Regions from separate parts of the Homo sapiens genome. Here all the other regions are linked to region 3. The links come from fine-mapping of genetic effects on gene expression. A gene starts in region 3. Each other region holds a variant in brackets. All regions are shown on one strand. Distances are from middle to middle.

Region 1 (5,153 bases), 25 kb before region 3:
GAAGGAAGGAAGGAAGGAAGGAAGGAAGGAAGGAAAGAAGGAAGGAAGGAAGGAAGGAAAAGAGAAGGAAAAAAGTCAAATTTGAGAAAATAAAGAAAAAGGATAGTGCCTAGACATTTGATTGTGCAGTTTAGGGGATGGATAAGCCAAGGGGAATCCATATAAAGAGCAGATGTGAGAAGAAAAAAAAATTTTGGTTTTAACATGTTATGCTTCTTAGATACACAAATGAATGTACCTACTAGGCAATTGGATATTTAAACCTAGAGCTTAGGAGAAAGGACGGAGGGGGATTATCATCAGCATGAAGATGCTGTGTGAGGCCATGTGCCTGGATGAAATGGTCTAGGGAGTGAGTACAGGCAGTGAAGAAGGCAGGACCAAGCAAGAACATCAAGCTGGAGTGCTCTAATATTGAGAAAGGTAGAGTGTGCAGAGAAAACCAGGATGCAACAGCTGTGTGATGGAACAACAACTAGGAGATAGTGGTATCCAGAAGGGCTCGAGAAGAAAATGCTTCAGGGTGGATGATGATTGTGCCAAATCTGCTGTGAGGCTGCATAAAATGAAGATTGAAAATTAACTGCTGCTCTTAGCAACAGGGAGATTGCTGGTGATTTTGACAGAGCAATTTCAGGAGAGTGATGAGGACTAAATCCCAACTTGAGTGGGCTAAAGAGATGAGAAGTGAGAAAGTGAGAGCGAGTACAGAAAAGTCTCAAGAAACTTGCTATGAAGAAGAGTTGAGGAATGCAACTGGAGCTAGAGTGCAACCAGAAGTCTAGGAAAGGATTGGGTTTGTTTTGCTGAGATGGGGGTCTATTTGTAAGCTGATGGGAATGATCTACAGTAAGAAGGGAGAGTCATGTTCAGGAGAAAAAAGATGATTAGAGGAGTAAAGCCCTGGCACAGGTGGAAGGGGGTGAGAAGCCAGGCTGCAGGAGCTGTTTATCGTCTGTGACCAAAGAGAAGATGGAACACTTGGGTGTGGAGCAAGGAGGTTGGTAGATTTGGTAAAGGGAAAAGGAAGTAGTTCTCTTCTGCTTACTTCTATTTTCTTATGAAATAAAAATCTAGGTTATCAGCTGAGAGTGAAGACAAGGAGGGAATGTTGGAGGTTTAAAAAGGGGGGAAGATATCAAACAGTTGTCTGGACAAAGAACTGACCAGAGAATTCTACTATAAAAAATTTATTGAAGTGCTGAGGACCCACCAGAGATTTGTGGCCAAAATGTAAAGTAAATGTGTGTGTTGTTCTCTCATCCCATTTAGCTGCCTGAATGCAGATATAGATTAAGCAGAGTTAAATATAACCAGGGTTTGGGTTTTGCTAGGCAAATATAATGGAGAGAGAGAAGGACAAAAGAGTTGAGGGTACATAGAGAAGAGTTATAGTGACAAACCATGGAATCTAAGACGAGTAGGGAAAAAGGTAAAGAAAAGCGAGGGAGATGATTAGGACAAAGACTGGGAGTGGGTCCATGGATTACTTGAATGATGTTGTACTTAAGAGAGGAGTCAGAAAGAGATGCTGTGAATATCAGAAAGTGGAATGATGAAAAACTAGATATTGGAGGCTACTTATAATGACAAACTCTAGGGTATGACTAGGGTGAACATGATGGGGTTGGGGAAAGAAAGAGATGTTGGAGTCAGAAGGTCAAATAATTGAAAAGGCTTACTGAGAAACTGATCTAAGTAAGTAGTGCTGAACCCTGCTGCATATTGAGATCATAGGTGTTGTGGGGTTTTTTTTTTTTTTTTTTTTTTTAGAGCAAAACAAAATCTAGTGGCTAAATCCTACCTTGACTAAATTAAATCAGTACCTGTTTGGCTTGGGGGATGAACTGAACACAGGTAGGATTTTTAAAACATCATGAGGTAATAAAAATGTGCAGCCAAATTTGAAAAATAATGACATACATAAATTTTGAAGTCATTAAATATGATGACAGGAGTCATGGTAGAAGGAAATGCAATGAGCCAGCTGCTAAAATCTTCCATCATGAAGTGGAATGGCTTGGAAGATAGGAGATGAAGGGTTTTTGAAAGAAGAAAAACAATGAGAAATAAGGAACATTCCTATCCCCACCTCCAGGACCTGGAAGCATAGGGTGTG[G/A]GAGCAAAAACCACCACCCCCTGCAAAGGCTGAAGGTAAACAGGATATGGGTTGGGTTGGGTGGTGAGCCAGGGCTTAGAGCAAGAAGGTGAAGGTGTTGTTCAAAGAAGAGTTGGAAAATAAAAGAGACTGTGCTTCCCAAGCCCTGAATTCTAGCAGCTGCATTGGAAGGGATTGCAGTTTTGGAAGGAATGGGAGATTGAGTCAGATCAAGGGATATACAGAAACATATGGAGGAGAGTTCCTGTGGTGACCTGGAATGCTTGGACTTCTATGGTGACTGAGGCCAAAAGGAGTATGAAACATGATGATTAGTTCCATCGCCTCTAAAGGAAAGGTGGAAAATTAATTCTAAGTATATCCTCCTTCTTGGGATAGGATCCTTGGGTGGTATGTGATGATGAAGCAGGTTGAGGAGCTAGGTGCTTGAGGTGGTGTGAAAGGAGCCTGGGAGGTTCTGAAGCCCTTTTAAGTTGAGCTGGGGGCAGTGTCAAAAGGGAGATAGGATAATAGCCCCTCTACTGTTAACTGTAAACTGTGAGTCTCCTTTAAAATCTTTGACACAAGCAGTTAAATGGTCTGGTTCTTAAGATTTACCAAATTATGTTGCAATCAATTTTCTGTATCTGTCTGCACTAAGCTTTAAATTGCCCCAGCAGAAATCTTTTCTTATGTATCTTTTCATTTTCAGCACCTAGATTAAGAAACATTTGAGGTACTGAAGTTAACTGCTTAAAGAACCAAAGACAAGGTTTTGTTGTGCTAAAGTGAAGTAACCAAATAAGGCAACATTTTTTGTTAGCATTTCTGGATTGTAATTTTACCAGGCCGGAAGTGTTACTAAATGCACTCATATTTTTAACCACAAACAGGACTTTCCTTTTTTACTAGTTCAAAGAGTTAAAATAGTTTCTGCCAGGAATTGATGCAATAATATATGTGTTTAAGTGTTACATTAAGAAATCAATATTTCTAGCTTGCACTAAGCACATTAAGCATCCCTTAACTTAAAAGTGTGAACAGTGTGTTCGCTTGAGATTAATTTCATAAAACGAAAAGATAAATTAGATCACCTAACCTAAGGAGACAATGAGATGCCAGCATTGTCTTTAGTTCTAAACTCTGCTCTATTTGGGGCATAGATTTTTTTTTCCCTTTCTCAGAGCTTGTTGTTTGGATCAGGGAGATCTAATGCAATAAGGAAAGTAAAGAGACATTCCCTTCAAAAAATCTGCCTTCTGCTCTCAGCTTCTACAGTGAGTAGAATCCTATTGTATTTCTTATAATTATTATCTCATAAAACCAAATACCAGATGTTCAACGTGATGGTCTGCAACTTTTTTTTTTCAATCATTCTTATATGGCATATCACAATAAACCGCAAAGTTAAGAATTCATTTATAAGAAAAAATAGAAGAACAAGATAATTTTATCTGGATGAAACCAGATATAATAAAAAAGATTCAAAGAAAAATTTTCAAATACGTAAAGATTTGAAAAATCACAATTATGTAAATCAAAAAACTACAATGGAAGGGAAAATTATTTTCATCAGATGTAAAAAAAAAAGGGTTCATATCTAAATTTAAGTGTATAAGAAAATAATTCCGCCCAAGCAAGGTGGCTCACACCTTAATCTCCACACTTTGGGAAGCCAACCTGGGAGGATTGCTTGCTCCCAGGAGTTCAAGACCAGCCTTGGCGATGTAGGGAGACCCCATCTCTACAGAAAATTAAAAAATTAGCTAGGTGTGGGTGCACATGCCTGCAATCTCAGCTACTTGGAGGCTGAGGTGGGTGGATTGCCTGAACCCAGGAGATCAAGGCTGCAGTGATTCATGATTGCACCACTGCATTTCAGCTCGGATGACAGAGTGAGACTCTGTCTCAATAAAAAAGAAAAGAAAAGAATTTCAAGAGTTCAGTGGTCAAATGATATGAGCAAGACTTCACACAAGAAGAGATATAAACATTTGTTTATATCTATCAAATAATAATACAAATTCTAGTGATGACATGCTGTAAAATATTCACATAATACGATATTGTAACTTAGGGCAACCATTTTAGAAAGTTTTATTGAAATGTCATTCTTCTAAAAGTTCACATTTTATCTTTAGCAATTATGTTCCTTAAGCAAAAAACAATAGAATTAATATAAATTTTCCAACATGTTCCTTGTGATATTACTTTACAGTTATGAAATATAATTATATTTTGCCTCACTCAAAAACAAGGGTAAATCTGAGTGCCGTCTTGCATATATAATAAAATAATAGTAGGAACAACCTGTACATATTACAACAAAAGTATCGTTATAATACTATAAAAGGTATGTGGCATTCTTGCACTATTGCAGGAAATGATGCAACAACTTGATGGAGCTATTAAAAGTAACACATGAAGTCTATATAGCCAAATCAAAAAGATATTTATGCAGAAAAAAGAAAAAATAAGTTTAAAATTGCATGTGTACAGAGATTACACCCCATAAACACATATAGAATTTGGATTAAGATTAAAAGGAGCTACATTCCTTGGCGATCATCAAAAAGTCAGGAAACAACAGGTGCCGGAGAGGATGTGGAGAAATAGGAACATTTTTACACTGTTGGTGGGACTGTAAACTAGTTCAACCATGGTTGAAGTCAGTGTGGCGATTCCTCAAGGATCTAGAACTAGAAATACCATTTGACCCAGCCATCCCATTACTGGGTATATACCCAAAGGATTATAAATCATGCTGCTATAAAGACACATGCACACATATGTTTACTGCAGCACTATTCACAATAGCAAAGACTTGGAACCAACCCAAATGTCCATCAATGATAGACTGGATTAAGAAAATGTGGCACATATACACCATGGAATACTATGCAGCCATAAAAAAGGATGAGTTCATGTCCTTTGTAGGGACATGGATGAAGCTGGAAACCATCATTCTCAGCAAACTATCGCAAGGACAAAAAACCAAACACTGCATGTTCTCACTCATAGGTGGGAAGTGAACAATGAGAACGCTTGGACACAG
Region 2 (5,153 bases), 28 kb after region 3:
TCCATATTCAGGATGATCCAGATGTATAAAGTATTACAGATGATACTGTAAAGTCTGAATTGGGCACTGAGCCTTGGGTTAATCTGTTACTTAAACAGTATGACTATACGCTGTTGCATTTCCCAGATCTTTTACTCACATGTCTTAAATGTAGATGTTTCACATACTGGCTCTTTCAAGAAAGCAGTTGGGTCAGAAGATGGAGACTAGAAAGAAAACAGGTATTGCCATCAGATCTGGTTTCATTCTATCTTAGCCAGGTAACCTTAAGATCTTCTACTATTTTTCTGTTTATGAGACATATGGATAACCTGCCCTCTTAATGTTTCCTTGGAAGTTCAAAGTCTCTAATAAGTGCCTTTTGTGGGATCTTGCATGTGTTAACCTTCTCAGTAACTGAGTGCCATTATTGAGAGTGTGTGCATACTGGCTGGAGGGTCCACTAGTTGACACTACTTTACAACAACAGGAGGAAAGAATCTGTTAAAAGAAGGATCCCTGGCAGGGTGCAGTGGCTCACGCCTGTAATCCCAACATTTTGGGAGGCTGAGGCAGGCAGATCACCTGAGGTCAGGAGTTCGAGACCAGCCTGGTCAACATGGTGAAACCCCGTCTTTACTAAAAATACAAAAAAAAAGTAGCCAGGTGTGGTGAGCACCTGTAATCCCAGCTACTCGGAAGGCTGAGGCAGGAGAATTGCTTGAACCCAGGAGGCAGAGGTTACAGTGAACCGAGATTGCTCCATTGCACTCCAGCCTAGGCAACAAGAGTGAAACTCCATCTCAAAAAAAAAGAAGGATCCCTAAGAGAATATAATTTAGCATGAAATCTCAATTTTTACATTGATTACTTATTTGGGGTGATAACGTTTTGAATATATTAGGTTAGACAAGATTTTAAAGTTAATTTTACCTGTTTCTCTTTTACTTTTTCAGTGACCACTAGAAATTTTAAAACTATGTAGGTGGCTAACATCATATTGCTGTTGGATGCATCTTTTAAGTGCTGCTGCCTTTGATTGAGCTGAGTGGGTTCCAGTTAACCAGGCTTGAGCACATATATCATTCATTATGTGTTTGAACATCTCATAGCAGAAGATGCCTTGCATATATATCATTCATTATGTGTTTGAACATCTCATAGCAGAAGATGCCTTGTGGTTAATGCCCTCTATGTGTTTTACTGATAGCACATTTCTTAGTAAAGTGAATCTTGGTGTATTGAGACGGGCATCTCCTACCTCCACTTGCTGATGGCATCAGATACAAATAGGCTGTGCCATTTTTAGCCTGGGGTTTCCCAGAGTCATACCCACAGCCCCAACTTGTTTAACAGGATTGTAACATCCTGTAAAGCCACCCCGTGGATTATAGAATTCCAGGGCAGCTGGGGCAGGAGCATTGAATCAGGAGGTTTCATCTTGACTCTGTTTGGCCCTGTGCAAATCACTTTACCCACTACACGTTGGTTCTTTCTTCCCAATGGAGGGCTGAATTGCACCATCTCTCTCTCTCATTCTTTTGTTGTTTTTTTTTTTTGTTTGTTTGTTTTTTTGAGACAGTCCCACTCTGTTGCCCAGGCTAGACTGCAGTAATGCAATCTCGGCTCACTGCAAGTGTGAGCCACTGTGCCTGGCCAGGCTCCTTTTCCCTACACTGCCCGTGTATTCTCTCCAGGGACTTACCTAGAACCACACACATTGGCCTATTGCCGTAAGTTTGTCAGCACGTTGTCTCAGAAAAAAAAAAAAATCCTCATCCTAAAGTGTTCTTCAAAGGCTAGCGAGATTGTTTAATAATACGGCTATTCTTATTTTATAGATGGCCAAGCTAAAGCACATCATTTTCTTTTCCTTCAGTGCCAGCATGAGCAGGGCGGGGGGACCAACCTCAGATTTAAGAAAGACATGTGGCTGATTTTTAGGGTTGTTTTTAGAAACATTAGATTTCTTCTCTAATAATGAAATATACTTTTGAAGGACTCTGACAATGCTGGAAGCTCTTTTAAGAAAAATGTCATTCTTATCTGAAAATCTTTTTTTTTCTTCTCTCTCTCATGCTACATTACAGCTGATGAAGTTAAAAAGCCTGGGCATAAGAAAAGGGGAGCCCTGGGTGTGACTGCCCTGGAAAAAGAGGTAGAGAGTGCAGTGGGTTCAAGTATGTTTGGGTATGTGCAGTCAGTCTTTGTGTCTTTCTCATTCAAGTAAATTCCATAGCAATTAAAGTGAAAATAATCATCTTTCATTTGTGAGTAGAGCATCCATAGAAAGCAACATATATCTTGGTCTAGAACTTAAATTCCAAAAGAATGTGTTATATTTTTCATTTTCCCGTTTTTGTTGCACAGGGACGAGTTTCCTGATGCTTCCTTGCCATAGGCCCTGGGCTCTGTGTGTAGTGTTCTTCCCAAACCAAAAATTAAAAATAGGAAAATCAGAATCTATACCAAGAACTTTGTCTAGGAGGCTTGTCTGCAGTAGGTTTCTTCAGTGCCTATGCCTCCTGCTGGATTGTGTTTGATTAATCCATTTCTTTTAACTTGTACAAGGTCCCCATTGTTAGAGCCACAAGTCATTTGGCCACTGAGGGTAAAAGATGGTTAGGAGTGGGATTTGTTCCACTTCTTTGCAGCGATTAAACAGTCAGTT[T/G]GAACTGGGGAAAGTATTTGACCTTTAGTCTGTCCTAAAAGAATGTCATCAGGCTGTTTATACATTAAAAGGCTCTCATAAGATATGTACTCCCAGATTCATAATTTTGGAACTTCTCTCCTATGGTACACACCCTTGTATGTATGCACACCTGGCTCTCACTGAGTCACTTATGGGAAACTGAAGCAAGTTTTTCTATTAATAGGGGAAAAAAGACCTCATAAAAGAGTCAAAGTAAATGAGACTTAGAGAAATGTAGAAGCATGACTATGCATCACTGGGCCTTTGCTTAGTTTTTATTCATCAGCCATGGAGAAGAAAGGCATGACTCTTTCCTGCCTCCCACACCCACCGGACTTGTAAAGCTCGACTTCGATGATGCATTATAAAGTGGTGCACAGGATTGGTTTTTAATGAGATTTTTGCCATTGGAGCAAAGCAAGACTGTTTCCCTGCCAGCTGCTTTATTCAAGTCATGAGGCATTTTGTTGTCTCCTCCTGTACTTGTGGTACATGGGCCCTCCATTTTCTAGCCCAGTTCTTGTTAGATACCTTTGCACATTCATTTGTATGTATGGCAGAACTGATGATATGGCCTTTCTTTCACCCCCAACTACTAACTGTCCATGCCATTAAAGATACATGGACAGGGGATTCCAGCAATTTCTACAGTTGCTCTTCTTTCTCTTTACCATTAATCCTGATGATTGTAGGAAATCAGTACACCATATTTATTATGCAAATCTAAGAAAAACAACTAGATCTATAAACTATTTGAAAAGATGCCCACATTGTATTTTTTTGTTGTTTTTTTAGATAGGATCTTTCTCTGTTGCCCGGGGTAGAGTGCAGTGGCCTGATCGCAGCTCACTGTAGCCTCTACCTCCTGGGCTTAAGCAATCCTCAGCCCGTCTAGTAGCTAGGATTACAGGAATCTGCCACTGTGCTTGGTAATTTTTTTTTTTTAAGGAGATGGGGTCTCACTATGTTGCCCAGGCTGGTTTCAAACTCCTGGCCTCAAGCAGTCTTCCTGCTTTGGCCTCCCCAAAGTGCTGGGATTATAGGCATGAGCCACTGCACCCAGCTACATATTTTTTAGAAAAGGATCAGATGAGTAGGACTTGCTCAACTGCTATCACTGTCAGAAATATCTCAAGGTGAAACTTGCAAACATATCAGTAAGGAGAAGGATGAGATTTCTTTTTTAATAGTCTTCTTTATCAGGAATGTTTTGCAGATATTGATTTTTTTTTTTTTTACAATGAGAAAAATATGACCAAAAACTGAATATTAAAGGAAGCAGAGTGTGATTCCCGGTGCTAAACAGTTTCTATAAAATGTGGCTAATAACATATTGGCCTGTTGTGCCTAAGGCCTGTGTTTGGGTTATGCCTTCTCAAAGAATGCAGTGGAAGAATCTCAGCTTAGAAGTGAGGACATCCAGAATTCTTTCCTGGCTGTGCCGTGAAATTCCTTTGTCACTTAGTGTCCTCATCTGCTAAATGAGGGTGTTGAATTGATTCCTAAAAGTTCTGGTATCCTCCCCTCTTCAGATTATTTCTTCAACTTATTTTCTTGGTAGAACTGGGAGAGGTTCGACTTTGCTTTTGTCACGCATTCTTACTCATCAGGAAAGTCCCGCTATAAACACAGTGCTGAGGGATCAGTTATGTCAGTCTGTTTCCTTCTCCCAGAGACCAGCCCTGCCTTGGGCTTCCCCTAGAACTTTATGTCATAGCATAAAGGCCCGTGTCTGGGCCCTGAGGTTGGGAGTATGCTCTGATGTCAAGTATTTGATCATTCTCTTTCTGCCTCTTGATGACTAGAAAGCGTTTTATGGTAAAGAGTTACGCAAGAAGCCTTTGTTTAGCTCTTTCTCTCATTGCTAAAAATAGTAAGCTGTTTTTAACCCTTACTGTTCTTACTTCTTCTTACTCATTTCCCTCACTCTTTAGCTGAGAATGTCACCTCCACCTTTATAGAGAAGACAGAAACTTAAGCATAAACTCTTCACCTTCCTTCACCTTCCCTTTCCCCAGTTACTTGCGTCCCTGTTCTTTGTCATCCTCTTGTCTGTAGCTGTCCTTGAAGTGGTGTCCACTATTCCCCTGGATGAGGTTCATTCTTACGTTCTGTTCCATAACCTAGTTGTGTTATTAACTTCCCATCATACATCCTTTTATTAAAAATCCTACACTACCAGTTTTTGAGTTCCTATTAGGTGTCACAATCAGTTAATCCCACTTACGGCATACAGCAGTCATTATTCCAGTTTATACTTGAAGAAACTTAGGCCCTTACTATGTTTCTGGCACTGCTTATTATCACAGCTCTAGAAGACATCTTCTATCTACCTTATCCTTCCCTTTTACAAAAGGTGAGAAAACTGAGGCCCAAAGAGGTTGTTGTCACCACCTATGTAGAGTGAGGATTTTTATTTTTGTGCTATTGTTTAGCATGATCTCATGAAATATAATAGAAAATAAGGGGAAACTATGGTACC
Region 3 (5,153 bases):
AAGTTGGGAAGACATTTATGAGAGATTATCAAAAAGGGAGAAGCTGTTGGAATCCTTATACTGTTTCATAATCAGAATTGTTGTAAGGTGACCTAGTTCTTGATAATTATCTTTAGAAAAGCAAGGGTACAGGTTAACAGAGGGGGATTTATAGGATAAGAACAGAAGGGCAGGGCAAAATCTATGTTCACAAATAGACCGACTCTCCTTGTCTTGTTGACATAGTAATCAAAAAGGGAGACCACTGAAAATTTTTGCGTATTCAAAATTATTGAAAATTTTGTCTTCCTTTTATTTTAGGGCTTGTTAAGAAAAAACATGACCCAAAATTTGGAAATAAGGCAAAAATATTACTGCCTACCTTTTCAAAGATACTGCACTAAAGAAAGCACTGTCCCACAGGACTGCCCAAGGGTTATCCAAGTCTGGGTAGCAAGGGGTCGTCTGATTCAGGCACTACCCTGAGCGGAAAACAATGGCCCAAGACCTCGACCAAACCCAGCTCTCCACCTGTTTTTGTACAGCTTTGAACTGAGAATGCTTTTTTACAATCTTAAGTGGTTGAGAAAATATCAAAAGTAGAATAATATTTTGTCACATGTAAGTTTACATGAAATTCAAACTTTAGAAGAATTTCCTCTTCACAGACATCACATCTTCAAGAGCAAATGCTTGAGCCCTAACCTGCAAGTTATAGTAGAAAAGTCCAGAAGTCCAGCCTGGTCCTCGCCAAGTTTCCAACTCCTATGCCTAGGGGTATTTTATGCTTACAGGATCTAACTTGGTTACAACGTCTAACTTTTAGCAGAGAGGCAGTGCTGAGTAGAAACTGGACTTGTTAACCATATCAAGTCACTTAAGTTGGCTAGGATCCCCTACTTAGGTAGCGGCCATAAAGCCTAGGGCATCCCTGTGCCCTCAATGGTTCACTTCTGAGTGGTGGGCTTCCTGCTCCTCAATAGAGCAATCGGCAGAAAGGCCCCTAGAAAGCTACATTGTCTTCATCCGCGAAGGATTCCCTGTCTCCTATTCCTCAAAGGAGCACCCGGATTCTACTTTCATTCTTCTTTTGCCATTGCATTTTATAACTTAAAAGAAATAGATGATTGTAACAGAAGAAAGAAAACTTTACATTGTGAGAAAATTTAGACCTAAAGCTTATAGTAATGTGAGGACGAAAGTCTATACTGTTTAAGTAAATAGGTTCTATGAGCAGCATCCAGGCTAACATCACACAGTGGTATTTTGAATTAAATTGTACTTGTGTTTTGTTTCCGTGTTTTGCTGCTGTAAGGAAAGAGGAAAGCATCCCCTTTCTCGGCCCTCCTCCCACGTCCAGGCTAATTTGCAGCATTTCTACATCTCAGAGTCCACCCTTAAGATCCTTGCCACCCATTATTTTGTTTCAGAACGCTTAATCCATCAAGGAAGGTTAAATTGGATTACCCCAGTAGGGAAGGGACGGGGGCTGTAAGCATGAGGGATTATCCCTGTAAAGGGCTCGTGGTGTGTGTGTGTGTGCGTCCTGCTAGTGTTGAATGACGGAGACCTGAGTTTGGATTCTGAATCCAGGTGTATTCGATGCCGCTCCGGCGTAGAACGGGTTAAAGATGCCCCCAGCCAGGTAGAGCCAGACTGGGAGTTGTGCAAGGTCTCAACCCCCTAAAAGCGGCCCCTCAAATTGAAGATGAGTAAATCATAGTTCGTAAATCAGAAAGATTATCCAGTACTACGTTACTCTGTTTATTTCCCTTTCGTCATCCCTGAGTCTTGGGTCAAGTCCATCCCAGCTCTGTCCTCCAGGAATCAAGGGAAATACGCAAACCCGCGGTGGGTTCGCAGCCGCAGGAAGGACAAATCTTGCCCCCGCCGCGGCGGCCGCCCCGCGTTAGCTGCCTAAGAGAATCTCCGTGGCCGGCCAGTACCCGCCTTGGTGAGGATTCTCCCTCCCGCGAGAACTTCTGGAATGCCGCCGGGCCAGATTTTGCAGCTGAGGCCTCCGACGCCACTAATATTGGGCCAAGCAGGGAGTGCTGCTCTTCCTTATAAGGTTTTAGCGAAAGTTAAGTAAGCCAATTAAAGTGCAAAACACACAGTCTGGAACAATACAGCGCTCTATAAATGGTCTCCATTATTATCATTATCCGTTAGTTATAACTGGGGATAAAAAAAAAAAAAAAACGACAAAAACCTGGAGAACCGGAAAGGTCTGCAAAAGGGGCGGAACGCGGGAACTTCGATTTGGGGAAGGGGTGGCGGGGGAGATCCCACACAAGCAGCCAATCCAGCTGTCCCGGGGAGGAAGAGGAGGAGTCAAGGCCCGCCCCTGGTCTCCGCACTGCTCACTCCCGCGCAGTGAGGTTGGCACAGCCACCGCTCTGTGGCTCGCTTGGTTCCCTTAGTCCCGAGCGCTCGCCCACTGCAGATTCCTTTCCCGTGCAGACATGGCCTCTGGCACCACCACCACCGCCGTGAAGGTGAGATGAGCCCTCCCAGCCGCAGCGGTTCGCCCTGCCGGATGCCTTCTCGCCCCCGCGCCGGGGGACCGCGCCTCCGGGGGCCATGCGCCCGGCCCGTGCGTCCCTTGCCGCCGCGGGGAGGGACTGGGGCGCGGCACTCGGGACTCACTTGCCGCGCGAGGAGAGGGTACGCTTGCAAATGATCCCCCTGCCGCACCGCCAACACACACACACACACACACACACACACACACACACACACACACACACACACCACCTTTTGGCTTATCTGCACCCGCACCCTGTAGGGCGTAGGCACCCCTTTAGAGAGAGAGGTCGTGGATGGGAGAGGCTGCACCCATGCCACCACCATTCCTGAGAACCACTCTTCTTCCAAGAAAGACACCCGGCTGGAGTCAGGAGGTGTCCGGGCGCCTGCAGCTTCTGTGACCGTCTCCTGGTGCCTTGCGGGACTCCAGCTTCCGCTCTCTGACTCTGCTTGTTGCCTGCGGCCCACGTGGGAGAACTGCTTACTTGCTCTTTTGTATGCTTCCGGCTTCTTTTTCCTCCAAACGTAGGCCTTCTCCGCGCTGAAGTTTTCCCCAGCAGCGTAATACTGTAAGAATTCTGAGACTTTCTTCGAAAAGGAGTACAGGCGTCCGTTTTTAGGGCTGCACTGTTTGGAGGCCTCTGGCTTGAAACTGCTTTGTTTTGCAGCCTTGCAAGTTAGAGTTCAATTTCCTTGTGCCCTAGGCCCTGAGAGGCCTTGATACAAGGGGTCATTGTGCGGTGGGAAGCTTTGTGCTGAGGAGGGCACGAGTTCTGAGAGTAGCAGCTGGCTTCCCTGGGGTTTTAAACACTTCTCTCCTGGTTAGTATTCCGAGAGAGAATTACAGCACGTAAAGAAAAATTGATGATAAAACTTAAGACCTCTTCTAGGCAGTTTATTACTGGCTAAGAATGCGTTCTTGTTTGATTTTTAGAAATTTTTGGCCTATGGGATAGGAAGGTCTGCGATCTTCTCCAAAGCATCTCGATTCCCTACACTCGACTGCAGTTTTCCCGGGAGAAGGCGAATTTCTGCGGTCAGTGTGTAATCAGCCAGATTAGTTTATTACGCCCTTGCAGGTTTAAATGAGCCACTTAGAATGAGAGGAATGGTGAAGGGTGTTGCATCCAGACTTATATATGAAACTTATTTTGTCATTTTGAAAAGAATCTTGCATCCAGCAAATATTTATAGAAGGCCTCTCCCCTGCCTTCATTGTTTGGCGGAAACAAGGCAGAAATGGTTTTCATGAAACTCGTGTGAAGTATGTGACTTCTCTTAGGTGCTCATCTATAAACTGAGAATTTTACTGCAGAATTTGCTAGGAGGGCTAGAATTATATTGTCTATGTTGCACATGGTAGAAGCTTATTAAGTGGTAGTGCTTATAAGTGGGGGAACTGAGATTAATTTTGAATGATCTTTTCCCCAAAAATTATTAAGTTATTGTGTTAGGTATCATTAGGCCACAACTTTTCACCTTATCCTTGCAGGAATACACTTCAAGCGCCATTAAAAATGGAGAAATGGTGTTTAAAACAGTCTTACTTTAATCTGGTTAGCATTCTCCCTGCCACAGGGTTTCCCTTCAAATTAATGCAGTGCATTTAAGTGCAGAATGGGCAATGGGATTCTCAGAGACCTGATGTAAATATTGAATAGTGTGTATTTTTGGTCTTGGCAAGCTTCTGGATATAAAATTAAGAGGTACATATGGTGCTAGGACTGCCTGCTGATTTCTCTTTTAATTTAGAACAGATGACAGCTTTGCCGTAGAGATTCCATGATGCCAGCACCGTATTCCCCAGACTTCTAAGGCAACATTCTGTATAGAAGATGTGAGGTGCCAGTGTCCAGAGCAAAATAGGTTAATAAAAACCACATCCTATTCCCAAATTATAGAATGATGGGGCTGGAGTGTTCCTTCAAGACCATCCATATAGCCACACAAACCCGTTTTGCGGGTGTAAAGTTGAGGCCCAGAAAGGTCAGCTAAGTATCCAGAATTACACAGCTGGACCTAGATAATGACAGAATTGGGCCTAGAGCCTGGCATTCCACCAACTAGATGTGAGGCATTTCTGAAATCTGAAGTGTGGTCTCTGCCCTGTTTTCTTGTGACCTAATGCACAATTAAAATGAGCACTTGATAGAATGTCCATCTTGAAGAGGGAGGCAGAGGGTATGCAGAAAGCAGGCTGCCTCCAGTGCCCACTGCACACCACCCAGGTATAGGTATAGGAGGCACATGTGTGTCTGAACCCCATTGGTGTCACTGGCAGGTCCTTTGAGAGGTTGCTGGATTTAAATACAGTAACATGTAACACACTCAGCCCAGTTCCAGGTACTCCTTTAATGTCAGCCCAAGTACCTCTCTTCTTAAAATAGAGATATTAACGGGGTGGATCTTAAATTCATTCTCAATTTTAGAGGTGCAGTTAACTCATGCAAGTGAAAGATTCCACTGAGTTTTGGATTGGCAGTATATTTGGCATATCTTTCAAATCTAGCCATCTACTGGTGGAATCCTATTCAAAAATATTTATTGAATACCTGCTAGACAATGGGGATGCAGCTTTGAGTAAGCGAGGCCTTTATTTATTTTCTTCAAGTTTATATTCTAGTCAGGGTGGGAAACCAACTGAC
Region 4 (5,153 bases), 36 kb after region 3:
GTTGAGTACGTGTCACCGTTTTATTGGTTAATCTTTCAAAAAGAGAAAAGCCTCTGTTTATACAGGCTGAAACAGTCATTTGACCTGTTCTTCAACTCCATCTGGAATTGCTTTGGGGTTAACTTAGCATTTCCCCTAAAGCGCATATGACAGTGGGTTGGGAGGAGCTCGGATGGGGTTTTTGTTCCTCCAGAGCGCTGAGGCCTTATTTCTGAGTGAGGTGGCCTTGGTGCCAGCTAATGCCACTGTTTAGTGTGTGATGAACTAGAAGTAACAGGTTAATTTTGGCCAGTAGACTTGCCAGCTGTGTAAACGGAACCAGTGAAACTATTTCTCAGTGCTGCCTCCCACCCCTGGAAGAGGACATCATGTTATCTACCTGCCCCTGTTGGCTTCCCTTGACCCATCTCTCCCATGCTGTCCCCTCCTCCCTGTGTTACTCATCAGTTCAAATTTAGAATAATTGAATGCACAGAGAAAGTGGCTTGTTCTGAAAACTTCTGACAAGAAATTTCCAGGTGACTTGGTGCTAGATTAATTTTAGCCTCTCTTATGGATTCAAAACTGTTTTGTCAGAAGACTTGAACTAAGACACTTTAGAATTAATTACGGCTGGGAAAAAGAACAATCTAAATGAGGCAGCGAACAAAGATTCCTAAATATGGAGCAAGACAAGTGGCTCTTTATTTCAGTGGGTCACTGGCATGAAAAAATATAGTTGGGGTTACAGGCAGGAATTACTCTTAGAGACATGGGAATTAAATGCAAGGTAAGTACCTTGTTTGGACCCTGAAACTAACAAAGCAACTGTTTAAAAACAAATTTTTTTAAGACATTGGGGAAATTTGCATCTGCTCTGAGTCAAAGCCTGGGATTTGTGTTTGTGAAAAAGCTAATAGAGGAAGCAAGTTGGACACAATTTAAGAAATTGTTGAATCTGGGTGATGTGTATATGGTGTTAAGTATATGATTTTCCACGTCTGTGATGATGAAACATTTTTGTATTGACTTCTTAAGTGTCTTACCTGGCCTTTCTGAGCCCACAGTTGAGTTGCACCTGCAATCCAAAGTGGTTACCCCGTCACGGCTGCCAGACCACAGACACTTTAATTCTTGTTGTGCGGTGTGTTGCTGCCAGCCCAGAGCCAAAAAAGCGGAATACCACCCTGAAGCTTTTGTAAACAATTGTCTTTAGCTTATCCAGAGGAATTGAGTCTGGAGTAAAGACCCAAATATTGACCTAGATAAAGTTGACTCACCAGCCCTCGGAGGATGGAAAGATGGCCTTAAAATAAAACAAACAAAAACCTTTTTTGCTTTATTTTGTAGGACCACTATGAGACCTCAGTCCTTCTATGATGGAAGTCATTCTTGTGCCAGAGGAGTGTGCCATATTCCAATGGCTGAGCCGTTTTGCCCCAAAACGAGAGAGGTGTGTAGTCTTTCTGGAAGGTGTACCAGAATAAATCATGTGGGCTTGGGGTGGCATCTGGCATTTGGTTAATTGGCAGAGCGAGTGGCCCCATACCCTCACTCAAGTTTGCTTTGTATTATGCAAAGTTTTATGAAGAGTTATTTCCTGTTGCTAATAATTTCCTGTTCCTCTGTTACTCTCAGTCATTTTAAGCTGAACCACTCAAAGTTGCAACCTACCTTTTTAATAAGTTTTGATTTTGCTATCTAGATAAAATGATTTAACATAGAATATCACATTACTCAAGAGTATGCAGTCTGGAGCCAGATTACTTAGGATCAAATCTCTGCTCTTCAACAAAGTAGCTGTGTCCAAGAGGACAAATTATTTGACATATGTGGGTTTCAGTTATCTTACTTCTAAAATGAAGATAATTATAGCATGTACCTTATAAGACTGTGTGAGGGATGAGAGAGTTAATACTTAATGAAGTCTCTGAACCATGCCTGTCAGTTATGGAACATCCAATGGCTGGTAACTGCTTTTGTGAATTAAATTACTATTATTGATCTTCTAAAAATGGTCAGATTGGCAGCTGTTGCCTTTGACCTGAGTTTGGCCATTACTGCCCAGCCTTCTGTCTACCATTATAGCCAAATCACAGAACTATGGGGACAGCCCCACAAGGGCCAGTGGTGGTATAAGGGGTGGAATCACAGTTTTAGTTCCCAAGCAACAAAAATGGCTACCATGACTAAGAAGCCTATGGCTTGGTCCACATGTGCTACTTCTCTTATAATCCCAGGTTTGAAAGTCAGGTGCAACTCAAAAGATCAGAAGTATCGTTAGAGATTAACTGCTTCATAAAATCTCCCTTATGAGTTAACTTAGAGAATATAAATACCTAAACACGTTAGTTATTCAGATAATGTTAACACCTGCATATAGAGAGTAGATGATTTCTTTTAGCATTTATGTTTTATCCTACATAATCACAGAAAACCCATTTCCTTATAGTTAACAGCAAGGGCACCTAAACTGAGGACACAGGGTTGGGAGAAATATTTCTAGTCTCAAACAAGAATTTGGAATCTAAAACCGAGTACTGAGGGAAGCCATTTCGGAGATACCACTGCGCATTGATTTTCTCTGACTTCTAGGAAAGTACGTCTTTTACTTGGTTTTTTTTTTTTTTT[A/T]AAAAAGTGGCAGGCGAAGTTTGTATATGTATGTATAGCATGTTTCTGGATAGTTATCCACAGAATGTATCAGAATGCTGCTAGTCTTCCTCTGAAGCACAGATCTGTCCACATAATAGATTTGCTATCCTGGGGGAAATGAAGTATGGATAAAATTCTTGTCCACTTCAAAATGGGGGCAGCTTGGGAAGAAATAGTCTAAGGAGAGAATATGCATGCTCGTATGAATCTGAGGTCAGTTCTCAGGCAAAATACAGTGACTTGGGGAACTAGGAGTAGAGGTAGATGGGGAAAGCACAATGGAGCTGTATAGAGCACATGTAAATGTGGGTCTGTGGTGATAATTTCCAGTAATCCAAGTTAGCCTCCCTTGAAGCCAAATTAATTCAGCTTCATAAAGACTGAGAGAATACTGGGAAAGGCAATTTAAGAAAATGGCAAAATAAGCATTCAGAAAGAAATTTTTAAATATTATCCAAAAACATGAAGAGTAAATAGTGCTGCCACTTGGTAATTTTCACTTTTAACATCCACATGATCTTTCATGTACTGATGGAATAGGACTGTCATGATGAATTGTCAAGTGGCAAGCAAGATACTCAGTGGTTGTACCATATTCTACCATTTATGTTAAAGTATGTATATATACAAAGAAGTAAGTATGTAAATATTTATATACAAATAAAATATTTTTGGAAAGTTAACAAAAAAAGCTGGTAACAGGAAACAGGGAAGATGGCAGATAAGAGACAGGGCTGGCCACCACGGTGGCTCACGCCTGTAATCCCAGCACTTTGGAAGGCCAAGGCAGGCGGATCATGAGGTCAGGAGATCAAGAACATTCTGGCTAACATGGTGAAACCCTGTCTCTACTAAAAATACGAAAAGTTAGCCAGGCATGGTGGCAGGCACCTATAGTCCCAGCTACTTGGGAGGCTGAGGCAGGAGAATCGCTTGAACCTGGGAGGCAGAGCTTGCAGTGAGCCAAGATTGTGCCACTGCACTCCAGCCTGGGTGACAGAGACTCCATGTCAAAAAAAAAAAAAAGTAAAGAAAAGACAGGGCTAACGTGCAGCTTCCACAAGGACGGACAGAATAGCATATGGAGACACTATGATCTTTTGTTCCAAGAACCACTGTAGGAACTTACCGGGAAAACCAAAAGAATTCAAAGATCCTTTGAAAGAAGTGGCACACCACTGCAAATTCTGCAAAACAGGCAAGAAACTGAGTTCCCAAAGTGTGAGTCGGGGAGAACCTACCTCTGAATACACATCCCCACTGGGGAAATCTAAAAATCCAGATCATGGAGGAAGAATTTAACCTTACCTAGAGGTGAAACGGATTTAGGGGGTTATGTGAAATATGAAAGTAGAAGTAGCAACAGGAAGTGCTTTGGATGTACTCCCAGTCTCCAGCTTGAGTCCAGGGAAGCCAGCCCTGACTATATCTCACAGTGGCCCTCAGGTAAGGCAGCCAGTGGAATTGGAGAGTGATGGCAGGGCGAAGGAAGCTCCCAAATGAAATCAGTAGTGGTTTCAGCTGGTCACAAATTTTCTCAGGCAGAGTCCAAGGGACTAATGGGAGCCGCAGCAGATACAAGTGAGTACAGGAGCTGCTGCTGATGGAGTGGGCAGGTGGGAAGGGGTGAGGTCCAAAGGCCATGCTTGCTTTCCCAGTGGGGTAGCTCACAGCCTGGGGCAAGGTCTGAGCAGGGCACTGCAGGAGTGAGACTAGCCTCACCAACTGCATAGTAGCTGGATGAGGCCTCTTGCTGCTGGCTCTCCCCCACTACCCTGGTAAAGTTTATGATACAGCAGAGGCAGTCAAGATCTCCTCTGGAACATAAACCCAGTGGCCTGACAAACCACCCCCATCCCCCAATTTCCCACAGTGTCTGCAGCAAGCCCTGCCCAAGAAGAGTCTGAGCCCAGAACCACCTAACCCTGCCCCAACCTGATGGTATTTCCCTACCCACCCTGGTAGCCAAACACAAAATATTTATTGCCCTGCCTATTGCCTGGGAAACCAAAATAGTTACCTTGGGCATCTTAGGGCAAGCTTAGAGCCCCCTACTCCTTCTGCAGCTGGTGCTCTCTTGAAAGTGCCACCTCCTGGCTGGAGGCCAGTCAACTGAGGCCATTACAGCAACTCATAAAACAATAACCCTGATCCCAGGACGGAAAAGACAACACCTAATTTCACTGCCTGCAACATCCTGGCTAACCAGAGATCCTGAATATGTCCACATGACAACTTCACTGCTAGCATAAGCAGCATTCAAGAGAGCCAGCACATTAAACATATCTACAACCAATGACTCTTGCAGAGTTTACTTCACTTCCCTGCCACATCTACCAGAGCAGGTGCTAGTAGCCACAGCTTGGAGACCTGAAGATGGATCACATCGCAGTACTCATTGCAGACATCCCCCAGCAACAGCCCAGAGCCTGGTGGCCTCAATGGGTGGCTAGACCCAGAAGAGCAATAACAGTCACTGCAGTCCAGCTCTCAGGAAGCCCCATCCCTAGGGGAAAGGGGAG

Evidence for each region.
Region 1: its variant is fine-mapped to the expression of MTAP in whole blood (INTERVAL, PIP 0.96).
Region 2: its variant is fine-mapped to the expression of MTAP in whole blood (TOPMed, PIP above 0.99).
Region 4: its variant is fine-mapped to the expression of MTAP in whole blood (INTERVAL, PIP above 0.99).

Annotation. Positions count from the first base shown.
Region 1 is chr9:21,775,643-21,780,795 of GRCh38, forward strand. No RefSeq gene overlaps it. Among named protein-coding and RNA genes, the nearest start is that of MTAP, 24 kb to the right of the region's middle. The variant G/A (reference allele first, on the strand shown) is at 2,120.
Region 2 is chr9:21,827,892-21,833,044 of GRCh38, forward strand. All of the region lies in intron 4 of MTAP (methylthioadenosine phosphorylase), which reads left to right. Among named protein-coding and RNA genes, the nearest start is that of MTAP, 28 kb to the left of the region's middle. RefSeq lists enhancers at 4,041-4,350, 4,218-5,153. The variant T/G (reference allele first, on the strand shown) is at 2,651.
Region 3 is chr9:21,800,305-21,805,457 of GRCh38, forward strand. MTAP (methylthioadenosine phosphorylase) reads left to right here and starts at 2,332. Exons shown (of 8, transcript NM_002451.4): 1 at 2,332-2,477. The coding sequence starts at 2,445. RefSeq lists enhancers at 1,211-1,841, 1,842-2,470, 2,965-3,174, 4,833-4,977, a silencer at 2,515-2,674 and a cis regulatory region at 4,905-4,906.
Region 4 is chr9:21,836,579-21,841,731 of GRCh38, forward strand. MTAP (methylthioadenosine phosphorylase) reads left to right here. Exons shown (of 8, transcript NM_002451.4): 5 at 1,330-1,432. Among named protein-coding and RNA genes, the nearest start is that of MTAP, 37 kb to the left of the region's middle. The variant A/T (reference allele first, on the strand shown) is at 2,611.